Regions from separate parts of the Homo sapiens genome. Here all the other regions are linked to region 3. Evidence: fine-mapped expression QTL. A gene starts in region 3. Each other region holds a variant in brackets. All regions are shown on one strand. Distances are between the middles of the regions. Region 1 overlaps CROCC2 (ciliary rootlet coiled-coil, rootletin family member 2). Region 2 overlaps CROCC2 (ciliary rootlet coiled-coil, rootletin family member 2). Region 3 holds the start of SNED1 (sushi, nidogen and EGF like domains 1).

The links. PIP is the estimated chance that this variant, and not a neighbour inherited with it, causes the effect. A credible set is the group of variants that fine-mapping cannot tell apart.
Region 1: its variant is the best candidate, but not a certain one, in a credible set for the expression of SNED1 in whole blood (INTERVAL, PIP 0.78).
Region 2: its variant is the best candidate, but not a certain one, in a credible set for the expression of SNED1 in whole blood (INTERVAL, PIP 0.52).

The regions. Positions count from the first base shown.
Region 1 is chr2:240,974,196-240,976,945 of GRCh38, reverse strand. All of the region lies in intron 27 of CROCC2 (ciliary rootlet coiled-coil, rootletin family member 2), which reads right to left. Among named protein-coding and RNA genes, the nearest start is that of UICLM, 8.1 kb to the right of the region's middle. The variant G/C (reference allele first, on the strand shown) is at 1,540.
Region 2 is chr2:240,946,493-240,949,242 of GRCh38, reverse strand. It overlaps CROCC2 (ciliary rootlet coiled-coil, rootletin family member 2), which reads right to left. Exons shown (of 32, transcript NM_001351305.2): 16 at 146-264. Among named protein-coding and RNA genes, the nearest start is that of UICLM, 20 kb to the left of the region's middle. RefSeq lists an enhancer at 1-119. The variant AC/C (reference allele first, on the strand shown) is at 1,326.
Region 3 is chr2:240,997,383-241,000,132 of GRCh38, reverse strand. It overlaps SNED1 (sushi, nidogen and EGF like domains 1), which reads right to left and starts at 1,515. Exons shown (of 32, transcript NM_001080437.3): 1 at 1,083-1,515. The coding sequence starts at 1,295. RefSeq lists a silencer at 1,464-1,883.

The sequences.
Region 1 (2,750 bases), 23 kb after region 3:
CCTGGGCTCCAGAGGCTCCTACCCCAGAGACTGAGCAGGGATGAGTCTGGGCTCCTGAGGCTCCTACCCCAGAGACTGAGCAGGGATGAGCCTGGGCTCCAGAGGCTCCTACCCCAGAGACTGAGCAGGGATGAGCCTGGGCTCCTGAGGCTCCTACCCCAGAGCCTGAGCAGGGATGAGCCTGGGCTCCTGAGGCTCCTACCCCAGAGCCTGAGCAGGGATGAGCCTGGGCTCCTGAGGCTCCTACCCCAGAGACTGAGCAGGGATGAGCCTGGGCTCCTGAGGCTCCTACCCCAGAGCTTGAGCAGGGATGAGCCTGGGCTCCTGAGGCTCCTACCCCAGAGACTGAGCAGGGATAAGCCTGGGATCCTGAGGCTCCTACCCCAGAGCTTGAGCAGGGATGAGCCTGGGCTCCTGAGGCTCCTACCCCAGAGACTGAGCAGGGATGAGCCTGGGATCCTGAGGCTCCTACCCCAGAGACTGAGCAGGGATGAGCCTGGGATCCTGAGGCTCCTACCCCAGAGACTGAGCAGGGATGAGCCTGGGCTCCAGAGGCTCCTACCCCAGAGACTGAGCAGGGATGAGCCTGGGCTCCTGAGGCTCCTACCCCAGAGACTGAGCAGGGATGAGCCTGGGCTCCAGAGGCTCCTACCCCAGAGACTGAGCAGGGATGAGCCTGGGATCCTGAGGCTCCTACCCCAGAGACTGAGCAGGGATGAGCCTGGGCTCCAGAGGCTCCTACCCCAGAGACTGAGCAGGGATGAGCCTGGGCTTCTGAGGCTCCTACCCCAGAGACTGAGCAGGGATGAGCCCGGTCTTGGAGCCAGCATGTGGGGCTGCAGTGTCAGTCTCCCCATCTGGGGCATGGGTATGATGCAGTCTCACAGGGGTCTCGTTGAGACCAAAAGAAGGCTGGGCTGGGCGCTGTGGCTCATTCCTGTAATCCCAGCACTTTGGGAGGCTGAGATGGGCAGATTTTCTGAGGTCAGGAGTTCGAGACCAGCCTGGACAACACAATGAAGCCCCAGTCCTACTAAAAATACAAAAAATTAGCCGGGCGTGGTGGCGGGCGCCTGTAATCTCAGCTACTTGGGAGGCTGAGGCAGGAGAATCACTTGAACCTGGGAGGCAGAGGTTGCAGTGAACCAAGACCGTGCCACTGCACTCCAGCCTGGGCAACGAGAGCAAAACTCTGTCTCAAAAAAAAAAAAAAAAAAAAAAAAAAAGCAGGCTGGTTGGATGCTGGATTCTGAGATGCCCCCAGGGAAGCTGTTACAAATGAAGGGCTTGCATGGAAGGCTGGGAGCGAAGGCTGGGAAATATCTGAACAGGAGCAGAAGGGACAAAGGCCTCGTTAAGCGTCCTGCCGGCTGCACAGAGAAGGACAGGACACGTCATAAACACTCGCCAAATCCATCCTTTGGGCTCTGGAATTGGGGTCCTCAGCCTCATACCCATTTATCCACTGGGCGACGATGGGCCAATTTGATTGCCCACTGGCAGGTATCCCCTGGTCTCCCTGCACTGGCGAGCTGCCCC[G/C]TCCTGCCCTCAGGCCAGTCACAGGACAGAGTTAGCTCTGGACAGTCCTCAGATACAAGGGGATTGGAGCCCTTCACTCCACACAGTGGGACTCTGGGGCCAGACAGAGGGCAGGGTCTGGTGCCAGTTCATGGTGGCAGGGCCTCCTCTGGACTCTGGCCTGCCCTGCTGCCTCTGCATCTATTCTACCAGCCTCTCCTGCTTTGACCATACTAGCATTATAGCCTGTTGTACTATTCACTTTCAAAATTTTCTTGGAAAATCTCAAACATCTATTCTTTCCTGTAAACTTTGCAATCAGTTTGTCCAGTATTCTCTAAACACATCACAAACAAATAGACAAAACCAAACCAAAAAAGCAAACGACCAATAAACAACTGACAAAGCAGGAGCATAAACAAAGATCCACCCAGACACTGATCAAAAGAAAACCGTCATCCCTGCCCAAAGCCACAGCCTCTCCAGGAAGATGACGTAAGCAATAAAAAGTGGCACAAACACACACTCATGCTTTCAAATAACCCCCAAATTTAAGAAGAAATAAAAATGGAAACTTCTAGAAAACTGGTAAAAAGGAAAAGAACTCACATCAAAAACTGATGGGACACGTACCAAACCACAATTAGGGAAAATGGGATCACATTAAATGCTCTTACTATTAAAGAGAAAGCCCAAGCATAAACAAATTACTTATTCCTTTCAAGAAATAAGAAAAATTACAACAAAAAGAGGGTGTTGGCTGGGTGTGGTGGCTCATGCCTGTAATCCCAGCACTTTGGGAGGCTGAGGTGGGTGGATCACTTGAGCTCAGGAGTTTGAGACTAGCCTAGGCAACATGGTTTAACACCATCTCTACAAAAAAAAAAAAAAAAGAAAAAAAAGAAAGAAAATACAAAAGTTAGCCAGGTGTAGTGGCATGTGCCTGTAGTCCCAGCTACTCAAGAGGCTGAAGTGGGAGGATCGCTTGAGCCCAGGAGGTAGAGACTGCAGTGAGCCGAAATCATGCCACTGCACTCTAGCCTGGGTGACAGAGCAAGACCCTCAAAAAAAAAAAAAAAAGTAAACTAAAAATAAAAATAGAGTGTTCCTAGAAATAAAAGCTGAAATCAATAAACTAAACAAAAATAAAAGAAGAGATACATTGATTCTTTGAAAAGAGGAATAAAACATGAACCGTTGGCAAATCAGATTAAGGGAAAGAAACAAATCTC
Region 2 (2,750 bases), 51 kb after region 3:
TCAGTCGCATGAGCTCCAAGCTCATGTTCATGCCCCTGTGGGCTCCGGAGAGGGGGTGCAGCACGTGTGGGCACTGAGCTCCATTCCAGGGGCCCCTCCATGGCTGACTTTCGGGGAAGGAGCTGAGGGAGCGCCCTTGGAGCACCTTGCAAGGCCTGCCGCGCGAGTCCTGCGCTCCGGGCTTCCTCCTCCAGCTGCTCCTGCAGCTTTGTGGCCAGCTGTTGGGCCTCAAGGAGGCTGCTCTCCAGGGAGTCCCTCTCCACCCTGCAAAGATGCAGCAAACAATGGGCAAGTCATCCCCAAGATCCTGCGTGTAAAATGCTCTCTATAGCTTTACACAGGTGTTAATGAGACTCAGCTGAAATGCAAATAAATGGAAGAATGTTTTAGAAATTATGGTGCATCTCTGGAGCACCATGTGCTGTTAACAAGGATGAGGAAACTATTTTCTATTCTCATGTCATGAAAAGAGTCCCCCCAAAAAGCCACGCACGCAACTGGACCCCCACATACGGCGTGATTCCATCATGTGAAAAGCCTGCTTGGTGCATTTGTGCATGGAGATGCCACTGTTCAGAAGACACCTGGAGCACACACCAACACACAGCAGTGCCCATTCCTGGGAGGGAGGGGTGATAAAAGACCTCACATTTCTAACAGTTAATTCATCAATGATCCAACCATCAATGGCAAGTTTCATTGTTGCTGTTCGCTGCCCTGTGCTGGGTGTTTATCCGTGAACAAAGCAAGGCATTAAACAACACGTACAAACACATCACAAAGACTCAAACACAGACACCCATATGAACACACAAATGGTAGGTGCACAACCCCAAACAGATGAGGTCAGGGTGGGCCATGGGCCACAGAGACCCTGGCAGCTCCTGATCAGGCCCTGCCTCCATTTCTCTTCCATCTTTCTGGCCACCGCCACCCCCTTCATCGGGGTAGAGCACATCCAAGCCTTCTGGGGCTCGCCAGGGCTCGCAGAGGGAAGTCCTCTGGGCTCAGGTCAGAACCCCCAGAGACCTCACTCTGCTGCATGCTACTCTGCTCCCTCTCCGGTCCCTCCTCCCGTAAGTGTTCCTCATGGCCCCCATCCCAACACTCCCAGGCTTGAGTGCTCTCTTCACCTGGCAGCTCTTCCCCCTTCTGCGTGTAGGAAACCTTTCCTTCAAGTCAGCCTGGAAACCCCTCCTCCTAGAGGCCCGCCTGGTCTCCTGTAAGGGATGTGGCCTCTGCTGCTCAGACATCAGATGTCTTTGCCTGAAGCTTGGGGACCTGAGCGTGTGCCCAGCCTCTCTCTCCTTGGGGGCCCAGGAGAA[AC/C]TCCAGGGGCTCTGCCATTGAGACCCTGGACTGGAGGCCTGGCCCACCACGGGGTGCTCTGAGCAAGGCAGGGCTGCTTGGGGTGTGGGCTGGCGGGGACCTTGGTCCATCTTGCTGGCTGACAAGTGGGCCAGGACTCCATGAAGGGAGGGAGCAGGTCCCCACTGCTGAAGCCTTGTCAGGGCCTGAGGATCCGAGAGTGGAGCCCTTCATAAAGCAGACCCGTGGGGAGGCCTCATCAGAAGCAAGGAGCTGCAGCACGGTTTCCCACACTTAATGGTCCTGAATGTTACCTGCGAGCTCATCAATGGCAGCTTCCACGCTCTCTGGCCCCACTGGGCCAGTCAGATAAACACACAGAGTGTGTCCGGGCAGACGTGGCTTCAGGTCAAGCCCCTCTGTCACCAGAGGCTCAATGGGCCATCAGGATGCCCTGTTCAGTGGCCTGTGATGCTGGGGCCTGCAGGGCTGCCATGTGCAGGGACCTCGGGTCAGTGGCAGGGCTGAGGTAGGGGCAGCTGTCAGGGCAGCACCCAGGCTGCTGAGGGCTCTGGCTGGGGCCTGTGTTCTGGGCAGTAGACCCTGACAGCAGGAAAGGGACCTCCACCCCGGTCCTTGGAGCCCCCAGGGCCCAGGAGGGAGCATGGGCAGGAGCCCAACCCGCAGCAGCCTCCCTCAGGTTTTCCTTGCTGTGCAAGCTTTCATTTGGAGAAGAGGTTTGTCTGTGAAGCTCGAGGATCCCAGACTCCAAGGTTTCTCATGCCTCCCAGATTCTAGAATTCCAGGAGGAAATCTTTTCAACAAAAATGCTTAGCAGTGCCTGAGCAGGGCCCTAAGCAGGGCCTATAAGGCACAGAAGCCATCAGCTGTTGGGTTTCTGCAGAGGCTGCAGGACCCATTCAGATCACCAGGCAACAGCCTACACACATCCTGTTCTTGCCTGCGAGTGCCCGTCCCAACTTCTGGGAGTTGCCCTGAGGGCCTTTGGGCTCACCCGCCCACACTCTCCACCTCATGTGTCCCTGGGCTGACCCTGCTTCTGGCTCCAGGGATGGGTGTGCAGCCCAAGCCTGGGATCAGGCCCTGTGACTCCCAGCTCCTAGGATTGGTACAGGGATGTCACACAGCTCAAGACGGCCCATGGCAGCCGCTCTCAGGCCTTGCAGGGAGAAGGGTGCTCTGCATCTGCTGGAAGGGGGACCCTGGGGTGGCTGCTGGCCATCTTGCCACCTCTCAGAGTAAGCCTGCCTGGGAAAAAGATCTCAGAGTCAAGCTGTGCTGAGGGAGAGAGAAGCAGGATTCTGAGGGCACTGTGGGAGTGCCTGAATCCAGCCATACCTGAAGTTGGATTCACCCTGAACTCCTCAGCTCCATGAGCAAGACATTCCACATCTGCCTTCCCCTGGTCTGAGCTGTGTTTCTGC
Region 3 (2,750 bases):
GGTGGTGGTGGAGGCAGTGCTGCTGGTGGTGGGGTTGAAGGAGGTGGTGTTGACGGAGGAGTTGGCAGTACAGGTGGTGTTACTCCGGGCAGCACAGATGGCAGAGGCGATGTGGCTGGCAGTGGGTTGAGGCTGGAGGTGGGCGAGGGTATGAGAGGGCTGATGGTGGAGGTGGCCGTGGTGACGGAGCTGGAGGGGACTCTACTTGAGGCTGGCCCAGCAGTTTTCTAGATATGATCTGGGGTGTTTCAGGGAACCACCAGGTACCAGTGCACCGTGGCCTACTCAGGGCGAGTGCTCCATGCAGTTACCAGGTGCATTTCATTCCCTGGGCTGCCATAAGGGCTTGGCCTGGGGTCACACTCTGGGAGCCATGGAGACAGAACCGGCACTCGGGCCTGTTCCTTCAGCTGAGCTGAGCCTGCTGTCATGAGTCCCTGGCCCCAGGAGTCCCACTGGGAGTCCTGTTTGGAGAGTCTGAGCCTGAGCGGCCAGCCCCCAGACTGCGGAGAGGACGGCAGGGAGGGGCAAGCCTGTTGCTAGCCCGCCTAGGAGGGTCAGCGAAGAAGCAGGCCCTGCCCTGAGCGCCTGGGCAAGGGGTCCAGCCTCCTGGCTCTGGGCCGCACTGGCGTCCACGGGGGGCGGGGCTGAAATGGCCCAAGGAGGGGCTGCAACCTTCGCAGGCCCGGCGCCCCACTTGGGAAACTGAGGCCCGGGAAGCCCGTGCCCACGGCCACATTGCCATGTGTGAAAACCAGGGCAGTACCAGGACCCCTGCTCTCCCCTGGGAATCAGGCGCCGGGAAGACGCGCTCGGCAGGTCTGGCAGGGGCCGGGGCGCCGCGCTCCACTCGCCCCCGCCTCGGTGCCCGGCGGCTGCCGCCCCCGCCCCGCCCGCGCGCCTCTCCCGCGGGCCGCTGTCCGGCCTTGGCCGCCGAGGAGGAAGCGCTGTCCTCATTCCACCTCGGGCCGCCCCGGTGCCAAGTGGCTGGCGGCGGCGGCGGGAGTCCGGGCCCGGCGGGCAGCGGCCGGGGCGCAGCTCCCTCCCCTCCCGGGCGCCCCGCGAGCCCGGGGGTTACTCACGTAGAGTCCGGAGTGCTCGGCACCGAAGAACGGGAAGGGCACCGAGAGCGGCCGCAGCCCCGAGCCGCCGTCGTCCTGCTTGGGGGTGACGGCGTCGCCGCGCTCGGCGCCGAACGGGTAGAAGTCGGCAAGGGCCACCGCGCCGCGCACCCCGCGCGCCCCAAGCCCCAGGGCCGCGGCCACCAGCAGCGCCCAGGCGACGCCGTGCCGCATCGCGGAGGTGTGCGGGCGGGACGGGGCGCTGGCGGAGCAGGGCGCTGGGGGACTAGGCTGCGCGCGGGGGTGGCCGGCAGGGCCAGGCGGGGTGCGGGGAGCGCGGGCGCGCCCGCTGGCCGCGCCGTCGGGGGCTCCGCGTCCCGCGCCCGTTCGGCCGGGCCGCGCTCTCGCCGCAGCTCCGCAGAGGAAAGCGCCGGGCGGGACCGCGTTCGGGGCCAGCCCCGCCCCTGGGGCCACGATTTAAATATCCAGCCCGGCGGTCACTCGGGGGGGCGGGGCCATGCAAATCGGGCGTCTCTTAAAGCGCCAGGCCCCGTGGGAGGGCGCGGGCGCGCGGGGAGCTCAGTCCCCTGGCGTGGGCACAGGCAAGGTGAGGGCTCTGCGGGCGCGCGCCCTGTGGTGGGGCCATGCTCCGCCCTGGGTCCCTACCCTGGTGGAGGCGCCTGGGCCCTCAGTGCCGTCCTGGGACAGACCTGTGTCCCTAAGGCCTGAGACGCTGGGCCCGCCCTGAAGGCGTGTCATCACGCGGGGGGCGGGAGGGGACCCTGGCCAGGCAGTGCCTGAATGAACCCGTTCCGTGCTGCCCCCTTCCCAGCCCTGAGCATGGGGACGCCAGGCTTCCAGCCACAGGGGCAGACTAACCCCGGAGCCCACTCCCTGCCTGGGTCTGTGTGAGGAAGAGCCCGGGCCGGAGACTAGGAGGCATGGAACAAAGTGTTTGCATCTGCGTGGCCGCATCAGGAGAAATTCCTGGGAGGCTCGGGACCTCGGGGCGACCCCTGGGTAAAGCAAACCCTCCGTGGGGAAGACTGACCCACTCAGGCCCTGGGGGCAAGTGCGTGCATGACACCGGCCTTGGCAGGTGGGGGCAGGACTCTGAGTCCCAGTATTTGAATTCAGGGTCCCCACCCTGTGGCCTGCCAGCCCTGCCCCCTGTCTCTTGGGCTGCTGGCCTGGGCTGCCTGTCTGTCCTTCCTCAGGGCCTCAGCCGGGACCACCTCTATGTCCCCAGGCCCATGGCAGGGTCTGATTCCTGGAACTCACCCGGCCCACCGTGGTCTCTTCTCTTAGATCCTGGTGTTGGGTGGTGTTGGCTGCGTGCCACACTGGGGCCCCCAAAGATAAGAGTGCACCCCTCGAAGACAAGCAGGAAAGGCCGGGCTGATGGTAACTGCATCTACCACTGAGGTGCTGGGTGGTTTTTTGTTTGTCTTTGCGTTTGTATCTTCTGAAATATCTCAAGTGAGCACGTGTTGTTTTTCAGTGAGAGCCAGGCACAGTCAATGTTATTTTTAAGAAGCAGCGGAGGGTTCTCTGCGTGTGACTGGGTGTTGCCGGTTCTCACAGATCCTGCACTTGGTGTTTTCACTCAGAGGTTCATGACCCTTTAGACTTGGTGTCAGGGCCGGGTGCAGAATTGTTAAGGAGGAGCTGACCCTGCACTGGCACCTC